Homo sapiens: one gene and its partners. The protein of the gene in region 2 interacts with the protein of the main gene of each other region in a pairwise test. Each region holds a gene or a part of one and is shown on either strand. Other genes may lie near its edges. The genes, in order: CCDC102B, NME4 and HBD.

What was found.
Region 1: the proteins of NME4 (region 2) and CCDC102B interact in binary tests that used the Homo sapiens proteins (3 or more experiments, as listed by UniProt).
Region 3: the proteins of NME4 (region 2) and HBD interact in binary tests that used the Homo sapiens proteins (3 or more experiments, as listed by UniProt).

The regions. Positions count from the first base shown.
Region 1 is NC_000018.10:68,796,278-68,800,029, reverse strand, and holds the start of CCDC102B (coiled-coil domain-containing protein 102B), read right to left. Parts: upstream 1,951-3,752; 5' UTR 1,849-1,950; intron 1,760-1,848; exon of another isoform or gene 1,578-1,759; intron 1-1,577. UniProt on the Homo sapiens protein: During interphase, forms fibers at the proximal ends of centrioles to maintain centrosome cohesion. During mitosis, dissociates from the centrosome following phosphorylation to allow centrosome separation. Contributes to CROCC/rootletin filament formation.
Region 2 is NC_000016.10:395,291-399,042, forward strand, and holds the start of NME4 (nucleoside diphosphate kinase, mitochondrial isoform a precursor), read left to right. Parts: upstream 1-1,908; 5' UTR 1,909-1,932; coding exon 1,933-2,023; intron 2,024-2,451; exon of another isoform or gene 2,452-2,889; intron 2,890-2,917; exon of another isoform or gene 2,918-3,104; intron 3,105-3,699; coding exon 3,700-3,752.
Region 3 is NC_000011.10:5,233,095-5,236,846, forward strand, and holds the start of HBD (hemoglobin subunit delta), read right to left. Parts: upstream 1,390-3,752; 5' UTR 1,340-1,389; coding exon 1,248-1,339; intron 1,120-1,247; coding exon 897-1,119; intron 1-896. UniProt on the Homo sapiens protein: Involved in oxygen transport from the lung to the various peripheral tissues.

The DNA of each region.
Region 1 (3,752 bases), on a different chromosome or scaffold from region 2:
TGTTGGCAAAATGATGATGATGATGATTATGGTAAAGATGATGAAAAGAGGCACAGATACTCCACCTCTTTTCAGAAACTTGCAATTGTCCCCTTTGTATGATATGTAAAGGCCACATTTTTCTGTGTGCAATGTTAAGATGCTCTATCAATTTTTCCTGTTCTATGTATTGAGTACAACGTCTGATACTCACAAAGGTATATTTTTTCTGCTCCAATCAGATAAATTACTCACCATTCTTTTATGCTCTATGCTAATTTGTGTTCAAAACCCTTTTTGCCAATTACTTCTTCAAAGTAGAGTATTCCTCTTGCTTTCAGCACCTATCCAAGTTCCACTAGTTTTTCAAGACTAAGTTCAAGAAGTTGAACTTTTCTTTAAAGCCTCTGGCATCTCTTTAGGACTCACATACCTGCTAAAAAGGGAATTTCTGAATATTTTGGCATTATGGCAGAATTCAATTGGTCTTGTAATATCAGCATAAGAGATATGACGACCTGAGAGCATTTCTTGTATTTTAAGAATTACAGCCATTGTTTTGTAACTGTAATAATTAGATGAAACATTCATAAATTACCTTGAAGCCAAACCCATAGTGAGGCCCAGAAACAATGTCCCAGTGATCAAGCAATTATTGAATCCAATGATAACATATGAAGGATGCAAAAGAGAGACAATGAAATTATCTATGATTTCATAAGAACATAGGATATTTTGGAAAATAAAGCAATTCACATAAAGCATTTTTCTGAATATATTCAAATAGGTCACACAAACCTACACAGATATTGTATCGCTAACTTATAAATCTTCTTTCTAATTTATTGCTTTCATTAAAATATGAAATAGAATTCAAGAATATTTACTGGATATATAAAAATATTTATTGGCAATAACATATTTTACTAACAAGAGAATATTTACTCAAAAGTTGTAATAACACCATTTCCCATGAAAATTATTAGCAAAAACACATTCACATTATTTTAGAAAACAGAAAAACTGGTATTGATGTAAATAAGAATATCAATAAATATTTTATATATTTTGGTCCTATGTTACTGACATATTTCTAATTATATTTTTTGACGAATCTTTCTTATATTTATATTTAATAAATGTACTCACTTGACATTCAATTGATAATTTATCTTTGCAGAAAACGTAAGCAAATGCTTCCCAAAGGTTTCCAGAGATTTTTTTTCAGTTTTATAATTTACTTCTATATAGCTAAGCATTACTTTTTATTATGCACAGGATTTTATTATTTTATTCTGTATCCCTGTCTCCTCCACACTATACAGGTAGCATGTAAAGAAATCAATATTCATGCTAAGTTTGAAATATACTTTCCATTAACGAATACAAGAATTTAGCATGAAGACTCAACAATTGAAAAGAATTCAAGGTACATGAGGCATAGATAGGAGGATTTCCATAACAATTTTACTTTTTTACTGTAAGAATATAGATTACTTCAAACACAATGACTAATTCACATTCATTTGGAACAATGAAACAAAATTTTAATATCAACATATACTATTACTGTCTAAATGTAGAGTCGAAATTCTTACCTGAGTTTTGCTTAGTATACAGTTATTTTTTAAAGACAGGAAATGTATGACAAATTGTCAGGATAATAACACCCACAGTGGAAAAATGAAAGGGGAAAGGAAGGAATCACTTTAAAAAGAAACTCCAAATCCTTCTGCTTCCCAGCTCTACAGTAGTTTTGCTCTGCATCTTGTAAGCAACTGTCTTTGCTCTGAGAACAACACATGCTGTACCTCAGCAGGAAAATATAAAAATTAAATAGAAAACCACAAGGTTATTAAACACTCTTACCCTCTGGGCTTGCTGGGCTGCTCCAGTGTCTCAGTTGCAGCCACATGTGTAAACAACAGAATTTCCTGCATCCTTTTCTCATCCGTACAGTTCTGGAGTCCTAGCCAACAGGATTATTTCCAGCATTAAGGGCACTCCACACAAACTCAAAAAAGATTCCCATTGGTTGTGAAGTTTTATTGAAACCACTACCACAACCCCCTCTTTGGATCACCATTGAGCCAACCAAAATAAAACCATTTTTAATGTTCCCTAAGTATGGTTATCCAAAGCTTTCCATACAACCATTTGAAACCTGTACTGTGGATGAAAAAGAAAAAGACACCCACGCCTTGATCCACAAGTGTTCTTAATGTTTAATTACAACAGTATAACTTGTAATAATAATAGAAAAACTAAAATAGCAAAGCAAAAAAAAAAAAAAGCCCAGGAAGTACCTATCTGAAAAATATTTAAAAGGAAATTATACTGCACATTACAGGAACAATATAAAATATTCATCCAATCTGATTTGCATTAGATTGCACAAAAGCAAAAGAAATCATATTTAATAAAAGATTTGAGTATACAAATCATGAAACAATAACTGCATGTCAAAACCCTTGATTGTGGTCACATTGGCAGGAATTGTGAGCTGTAGTCCCCGGGGTGCCCAGTGAAAGCTCTCTGGCCCCTTTCCCTGGGGAAAAAGAATATGAAGTAGCTTTCCATTGACATGACTCAGCTGTCAGGAAGTGTTCTGATGGGGGTTGAGGGGGGAGGCGAGAGATCACATAAAAAAGAGCTTCTCTGGTTGAAACTAGCAGCAAAAAAATGTCCAAAGTAAAAAAGAAAAGTCAAAAGGTAACAGGATAGCCTTGCTCCTTTTAAGTAGCAAAAAAACAACATTTGAAATTTAGGCAATAAATGTCTTCAAATTATTTTATTTTTCACCCTTCCCTAATTTGTAGGCTTATTACGGTGTTATCATCTATCTCTACTTAACATTCTTTTCCCACTTACTTTCTGATGCAATGGAAAAGGTGGCCATCTTCCTGTATAAAGCCAATTGACCCATCGAGCTAAACTTAATCATGATTCTCTCTCCTCTATCTTTGAACGTTCCCTCCTGTCCGGATTTTCCCCACGTGATGTTAAATACCATACATTCTCTAGTCAATTTCATGTATGCCAATGAACTTTACTTTTAATTCAGTCATTTTCACTTTCAGGTACCATTCTTTCTGTCATGGCCAAATGATTGAAAGTTCTCCAGCCAAGAATTTTATTTAGTCTTGCATCCACCTGATTTTAATTCATCAAAGTGACAATACACACACACACACACACACACACACATGCATGTACATAAATATTCTATTTATTTTTAATTTTTCTAACTCACCTCAATCCTTCTAGTTGACATCTACACAGCCTTTCATACTGTTCACAACCCTGCCCACATGAAGACATCTCTTGTCTTGGCATAACACTCTCCTGGTTTTCCTCTTGACCTCTTTTGCTGGCCCTTCTCACCCTCTTTGATGATGCCTCATCCTCCATCCATCCTTTGGTGTGCATCACATATGTTCTTAGATAAATCTACATATAAATGGTATATTCTCTCTCTGGATAAAGCCACCCATCCTCATAGTTTAAATTACCATCTTTCTTTTTAGATGACTCCCAAATATCTACTTTTAGACCCAATGACTGTCTGAATTTTCAATACTCATATTTGTCAGCCCACTATACCCCTCAACTAGAAAATTACACAGATATGGCATCAGCTTATCTAAACTGAAATCATCATCTCTCCATGGACCTGCTGTGTTATCTATGTAAATGTCAACCCAGTTTTACAGTTTCCCAAAGAAAAATTCTGGAAGTCATCCTTGACTCCTTCTATTCTATATCAAATCCAG
Region 2 (3,752 bases):
CCAAATTGTTGGGATAATAGGCCTGAGCAAGAGTCCAGCCTCTAAAAAGAAAGAAAGTCACTTCTTTATACCATAGTACTGCAAATTCTAGTCAGAGCAACTAGACAAGAAAATAAAATAAAAGGCATTCAGATTGGAAAGAAAGAACTGAAACCGTCTCTATTCCCATATGACATGATGTTTTTTCTTTTCTTTTTTTTTTTTTTTTTGAGACAGAGTCTTGCTCTGTTGCCCAGGCTGGAGTGCAGTGGCATGCTCTCGGCTCATTGTGAGCTCCACCTCCTGGGTTCAAGCCATTCTCCTGCCTCAGCCTCCTGAGTAGCTGGGATTACAGGCATGCACCACCATGTCCAGCTAATTTTTGTATTTTTAGTAGAGACGGGGTTTCACCACGTTGACCAGGCTGGTCTTGAACTCCTGACCTCGTGATCCGCTCGCCTCGGGCTCCCAAAGTGCTGGGATTACAGACATGAGCCAGTGTGCCCCGCTCCATATGACACAATCTTATACAAAGAAATTCCCAAGGAATTAATTAAAAACTATTAGAACTAATAAATGCATTTGGAAGGCTTGCAGGATACAAGATCAATACACAAAGCTCAATTGTTGGCCAGGCGTGGTGGCTCACGCCTGTAATCCCAGCCCTTTGGGAGGCCAAGGCGGGTGGATCACCTGAGGCCACGAGTTTGAGACCAGCCTGGCCAACATGGCGAAACCCCGTCTCTACTAAAAATAAAAAAAAACACCAGCCAGGTGTGGTGGCAAGCTCCTGTAATTCCATCTACTCGGGAGCCTGAGGCAGGATAACTGCTTGAACCTGGGAGGCGGAGGCTGCAGTGAGCAGAGATATGCCATTATTGCACTCCAGCCTGGGCAACAAGAGCGACACTCTGTCTGAAAACAAACAAACCTCAATTGTCTGTTATACACTTGCAATGGACAATTCAAATAAGAAAACAATTCCATTCACAATAGCAGCAAAAAGAACAGGCTTTTTCAAGACTCATTAAGTAAGTTCTAGCAGTGGGAGACCTAACCATTTCAAATAGTAGCATGCTGTGCTATCTACCCAAATATTACCGTACCTGTGAATTCTGTTGGTGACAAAGTCACAGGCCCTGCAACTATGAATGTGGCTTCTTCCTTATATCCGCAATTGAATGAATTAGAGGAATGCAGTCACATCAGAGGCCATTTGAGAATAAAGGTCGGATTTTTCCCCATTCAAATTCACAGACCAGGCTCACATCTGTAATCCCAGCACCTTGGGAAGCCAAGGCAGGAGGATTTCTTGATCCCAGGAGTTTGAGACCAGCATGGGCAACATAGGGAGGCCCCATCTCTACAAAAAATTAAAATATTAGCTGGTTGTGGTGGCGCGGGTCTGTAGTCCCGCCTACTCGTCCTGGCCGCAGAGTCAGCGTCTCCGGAGCGCCTCCTTCTCCCGCCCTGGGGCTCACGTGGGAATTTCACCCTCCATTGGAGGGGGCTCAGACCAGGGCTTCTAGACCTCCTTTTGGTCCGTGAATTTATTTTTGAGACAGAGTCTTGCTCTATTGCTCAGGCTGGAGTGCAGCGGTGCAGTCACAGCTCACTGCAGCCTCAATCTCCTGGGCTCACGCGATCCTCCTGCCTCAGCCTCCCGAGTGGGCCTTCCTCCGTGGGAAAGCGTTAAAACGATAGTTAACGGTTGCGTCGGTGTAAAGACGAATGCAATTCGAGAAGGATTCATTATTATTTTGTTTTTTCTTCTGATTTTTAACAGAAATTGGCGTTGAACATTTCCCCCGTGAGCGCCGGGCCACGGGGGTCCGGGGCGGCGGGGGGCTCCGGGGCGGCGGGGGGCTCCCGGGCGGGCGGGGGCGGGTCTCGGGCTGGCACCGCCCTCCGCGCCCGCTCCTCGCGCTCACAGCGGCCCGCGGGCCGGGCGTCATGGGCGGCCTCTTCTGGCGCTCCGCGCTGCGGGGGCTGCGCTGCGGCCCGCGGGCCCCGGGCCCGAGCCTGCTAGTGCGCCACGGCTCGGGTGAGTGGGGCCGCGCGCCCCGGCGGGGACGCGGAGGGGAGGAAGGGGCGCGCGCCGCTCGGCCTTTGTGCGCGCACGTGCGGGCTGGGGTCCGACTCCCCCAGAGGCCTCGGGGCGCGGGCTGCGGGGTCCGTCCGAGTTGGGGAAGGCGCCGGCTCGCACCCGCACGCCCCTCCAGTGCCCGTCCGGCTCTGCGGCTCCTTCTCGCCTCCCCAGGCCCCAGGCTGCAGGCGCCCGGCGAGTTGGCAGCCTGGGCGGGTCCGGGGCGACCGAGGGCCCGGGAGCGCAAGGAAGGCAGAGGCCGGCTGCAGCACTGGGCGGGGAGGGGGTCTCCCGGCCGGGGTGGGGGTGGGGGTGTGGGGGGGTGAGGGAGTCGGGGGGTGGGGGTGGGGGTGTGGGGGGGTGAGGGAGTCGGGGGGTGGGGGTGGGGGGAGCCGCTCCGCTGGGGCGTTCGCTGAAGGCCAAGTTAGGCCAGAATCTGACTGGGACGTCAGGCCCCAAGTCCCCGGCCCCGCCGCTGCCCGGCCCCCCCAGCTGCCACCTCACAGGACGATCCATGTCCCAGGGCTCCCTCCATCGGCTCTGAAAAGTGAGCCGCCGCCTGCAATGCCCGCACCAGCCGCAGCAGAGCCCCAGGCTACACAAGGCGCCCTGCAAACTGGGTTTTGGGGGAACAAACCAACCAGGGGGTCTTCCTCCCGTGGGCTTCAGCCGCCTGCTGGGGTTAACTTTTCCTCCTGGCCTGGCGGAGCCCCTTTGGCTCTGTCCAGATTCTGTGGGACATACAGGGTCTGGGCTCCTCTGGAAACCAGGGACCCGATGCCGGAGGGTAGCTTGGCTCTGGAGCAGCCTGGGACTATAGGAAGGTGAGGACGTCTTCTGTTTCCCTGGCAGCGTCCCCTCCAGAGGAGGACGGCTGGGGCGGAGCTCAGCGCTGACCCTGGGTCTGGAAGCGACAGGCCTTGAAACTCCACAGCAGCACAGGCCCCGTCTCCTGGCTCGGACAGAACCCTGCTACCTTCCCTCTTCAATCTTCAGGCCCCTTTTTGTCCGTGTTTCCAGGGCTCACCTGGTGGGGAAAGTGTGTTTCTCCCTGGTTCCCTGCCACTCATTCACCTCAGACACAGGGTGGGCTCTGGGTTCTTCCTCATGTGGAAAGTCGGGGCTTCAGACCATGTCTGTCGTCATCCAGAAGGGATGGAGTCAAAAGTGAGGCTGGAGTTTTGCAGGATCTCCAGACTTCCCTGAGGCCACTGAGCTGGGCTGTGCCTCTGTGGACCTCAGGGTGGTCGCTGAGCTGGGCTGTCCCTCCCTGGACCTTGAGGTGGTCCCTGAGCTGGCTCTGCCTCTATGGACCTTGCGGTGGTGGTCCCTGAGCTGGGCAGTGCCTCCCTGAACCTCGGGGCGATCTCAGGCAGCCTCTGCCTCTGCTGGGAGGAGCCATGGCCCCTGGGAGAGGCTAGAAGCCCTGGGGACACATTGCCTTGGGTGTCCCTGACAGGGACTATCATGGGGGTGTTTGTGGCTGTGGGCACCATCCCTGTCCCTTCCAGAGTGCCCTGCATAGAGGCAGACACCCTGAAGCCTGGTGACCCCTGGGCTCTGGCTGGGAAACCCGGGTCGTGGGGACGTGAAAGGGTGAGGTGGCAGTGCCTCTGACCTCTTGCCTTTTGAAGGAGGGCCCTCCTGGACCCGGGAGCGGACCCTGGTGGCGGTGAAGCCCGATGGC
Region 3 (3,752 bases), on a different chromosome or scaffold from region 2:
GCGGAGAAGAGGTAGGCAGATACATGCATATGGTTAACAGAGAAATAAAGACTGGCTTCTGAGAAACTGAGCCAACACCCATTTTTTTCTGCCCAAATCTTAGACAAAACTGATCCCCAGGTTATTCCCATCAGCATAAATAAGTACATATATGAATGCATACATATAACATATATCTATACACACACATCCTCTATGTACTTAACTAGCATGTAGTCTATATATGTACATATATGCTATATATGCTGTATAATACTATATACAAATTAATTCCAAATTAGTTTTAATTTTGTATGTGTATATAGCATATACAAATTAATTACTATAAACAGATTAATAGATACAAATTAATTGATTAATCAGTGTGATGATGGGCTGTCTCCTAGCAACGACTTCTGCCCCACCTCCAGTGTAACTGCCTAGTCTTTCATAATCAAATATTCACTTTCCTTTCCATTCCATTTACTACAGAATTTATAAAATTCCAATTATTCCTTATTGTAAAATGATTTATAGCCTCTAAAACAGTATTCTATGCCTCTCATCTTTGAGTTGGAGCCTCTCCCATACCCATGTGGAGAGACAAAAGGATTATTCTAAGTGCAGAATTAGCAGGTGAGAGCTGGTATGCATAATTTGAGTTGTTGTTAGAGAAGGAAAAATGAAGGGAGGGGGTTGGGAGAGAAAGACAGGATATTAAATAATTTAAAATAGCAAGATTGTGAGGAAGGAAAAAATGCAGAATATTTAAATAAAAAATTAACAAAATTTTAGAAGCATTAAATGATAAAATATAGTAAAATGACAAAAATGTGGGAGAAGAGCAGGTAGGTAAAAGAACCAAAATGTAAGATTAGAAAGTAAAAAGAGAAAAGTGAAGCATCTCCTGGACTCACCCTGAAGTTCTCAGGATCCACGTGCAGCTTGTCACAGTGCAGCTCACTCAGCTGAGAAAAAGTGCCCTTGAGGTTGTCCAGGTGAGCCAGGCCATCACTAAAGGCACCTAGCACCTTCTTGCCATGAGCCTTCACCTTAGGGTTGCCCATAACAGCATCAGGAGAGGACAGATCCCCAAAGGACTCAAAGAACCTCTGGGTCCAAGGGTAGACCACCAGTAATCTGAGGGTAGGAAAACAGCCCAAGGGACAGAGAGTCAGTGCCTATCAGAAACCCAAGAGTCTTCTCTGTCTACACATGCCCAGTTTCCATTTGCCTCCTTGAGCCTCTCTTATAACCTTGATACCAACCTGCCCAGGGCCTCACCACCAACTGCATCCACGTTCACTTTGCCCCACAGGGCATTGACAGCAGTCTTCTCCTCAGGAGTCAGATGCACCATGGTGTCTGTTTGAGGTTGCTAGTGAACACTGTTATGTCAGAAGAAAGTGTAAGCAACAGTCGACTCTGCCCTGCCTTTTATGCTGGTCCTGTCCTCCCTGCTCCAGTGAGCAGGTTGGTTTAAGATAAGCAGGGTTTCATTAGTTTGTGAGAATGAAAAATGAACCTTCATTCCACTATTCCCTTAACTTGCCCTGAGATTGGCTGTTCTGTCATGTGTGTCTTGACTCAGAAACCCTGTTCTCCTCTACATATCTCCCCACCGCATCTCTTTCAGCAGTTGTTTCTAAAAATATCCTCCTAGTTTCATTTTTGCAGAAGTGTTTTAGGCTAATATAGTGGAATGTATCTTAGAGTTTAACTTATTTGTTTCTGTCACTTTATACTAAGAAAACTTATCTAAAAGCAGATGTTTTAACAAGTTGACTCAATATAAAGTTCTTCTTTGCCTCTAGAGATTTTTGTCTCCAAGGGAATTTTGAGAGGTTGGAATGGACAAATCTATTGCTGCAGTTTAAACTTGCTTGCTTCCTCCTTCTTTTGGTAAATTCTTCCTATAATAAAACTCTAATTTTTTATTATATTGAAATAAATATCCATTAAAAGAATATTTAAAAAATGAATAGTGTTTATTTACCAGTTATTGAAATAGGTTCTGGAAACATGAATTTTAAGGTTAACATTTTAATGACAGATAAAATCAAATATTATATACAAATATTTTGAATGTTTAAAATTATGGTATGACTAAAGAAAGAATGCAAAGTGAAAAGTAGATTTACCATATTCAGCCAGATTAAATTTAACGAAGTTCCTGGGAATATGCTAGTACAGAACATTTTTACAGATGTGTTCTTAAAAAAAAATGTGGAATTAGACCCAGGAATGAAGATCCCAGTAGTTTTTCACTCTTTTCTGAATTCAAATAATGCCACAATGGCAGACAAATACACACCCATGAGCATATCCAAAAGGAAGGATTGAAGGAAAGAGGAGGAAGAAATGGAGAAAGGAAGGAAGGAAGAGGGGAAGAGAGAGGATGGAAGGGATGGAGGAGAAGAAGGAAAAATAAATAATGGAGAGGAGAGGAGAAAAAAGGAGGGGAGAGGAGAGGAGAAGGGATAGGGAAGAGAAAGAGAAAGGGAAGGGAAGAGAGGAAAGAAGAGAAGAGGAGAGAAAAGAAACGAAGAGAGGGGAAGGGAAGGAAAAAAAAGAGGAAAAAAGAGACAAGAGAAGAGATAAGACTGACAGTTCAAATTTTGGTGGTGATATGGATCAATAGAAACTCAAACTCTGTTGGTGACACTGTACAATAGTATAACCCCTTTGGAAAACCTTTAATAGTATCCACAAATGCTGGATGCTTGATAAGTCTATTACCTAGCAATTACATTTTTAGATATTCAGAAACACATGCATGTGTGTATCCAAAGACATGTATAGAAATGCTTATGACAGCAATAATCATAAAAACCTCAAACCGGTAGCCACTTAAATGCTTACCAACAGTAGAATTGATAAATTACGGTATAGTCAAAGAATAGAATATTACACAGAAATGAAAAGAATCAACTACTGCTTAACACGTAGCGATACAAATGCATTTTACAGCATTTGGTTGATTAAAAGTAACCAGAGGTGAGTTCAAACTATATGACTTTATTTGTATATAGAAAGATGGATGATGTGCCTGAGATTCTGATCACAAGGGGAAATGTTATAAAATAGGGTAGAGAGGAGCCATGAATGACCTTTAAACTTTGTTACAAGTTATTTTTCTGTAACCTGGAAGCCAACGAAAGATATTGAATAATTCAAGAAAGGTGGTGGCATGGTTTGATTTGTGTCTTTAAAAGATTATTCTCACTTAGTGAAGAAATGTATTTTAGAAGTAGAGAAAATGGGAGACAAATAGCTGGGCTTCTGTTGCAGTAGGGAAGAAAGTGACAATGCCATTTCTATTATCAGACTTGGACCATGACGGTGATGTCAGTCGTGAACACAAGAATAGGGCCACATTTGTGAGTTTAGTGGTACGATAAAATCAGAAATACAGTCTTGGATACATTGTATTGTATGCACTCTTGTAAAATGCAAAAAGATGTACTTAGATATGTGGATCTGGAGCTCAGAAAGAATACAACCAGGTCAAGAATACAGAATGGAACAGAACATACAAGAACAGATCATAATGTGCTGTGTGAATCACTACCACTACCTGTTAAAAATGACAGATGATGTACTTCATCAATATCTCCTTAAAATCTTAGAATGTGTTTGTGAGGGAGGAATTATGTTTCCAATTCATATATAAGAAAATTGATTCTAAAAAAAATGTTAGGTAAATTCTTAAGGCCATGAGGACTGTTATTTGATCTTTGTCTGTTAATTCCAAAGACTTGGCTTTTCACTTT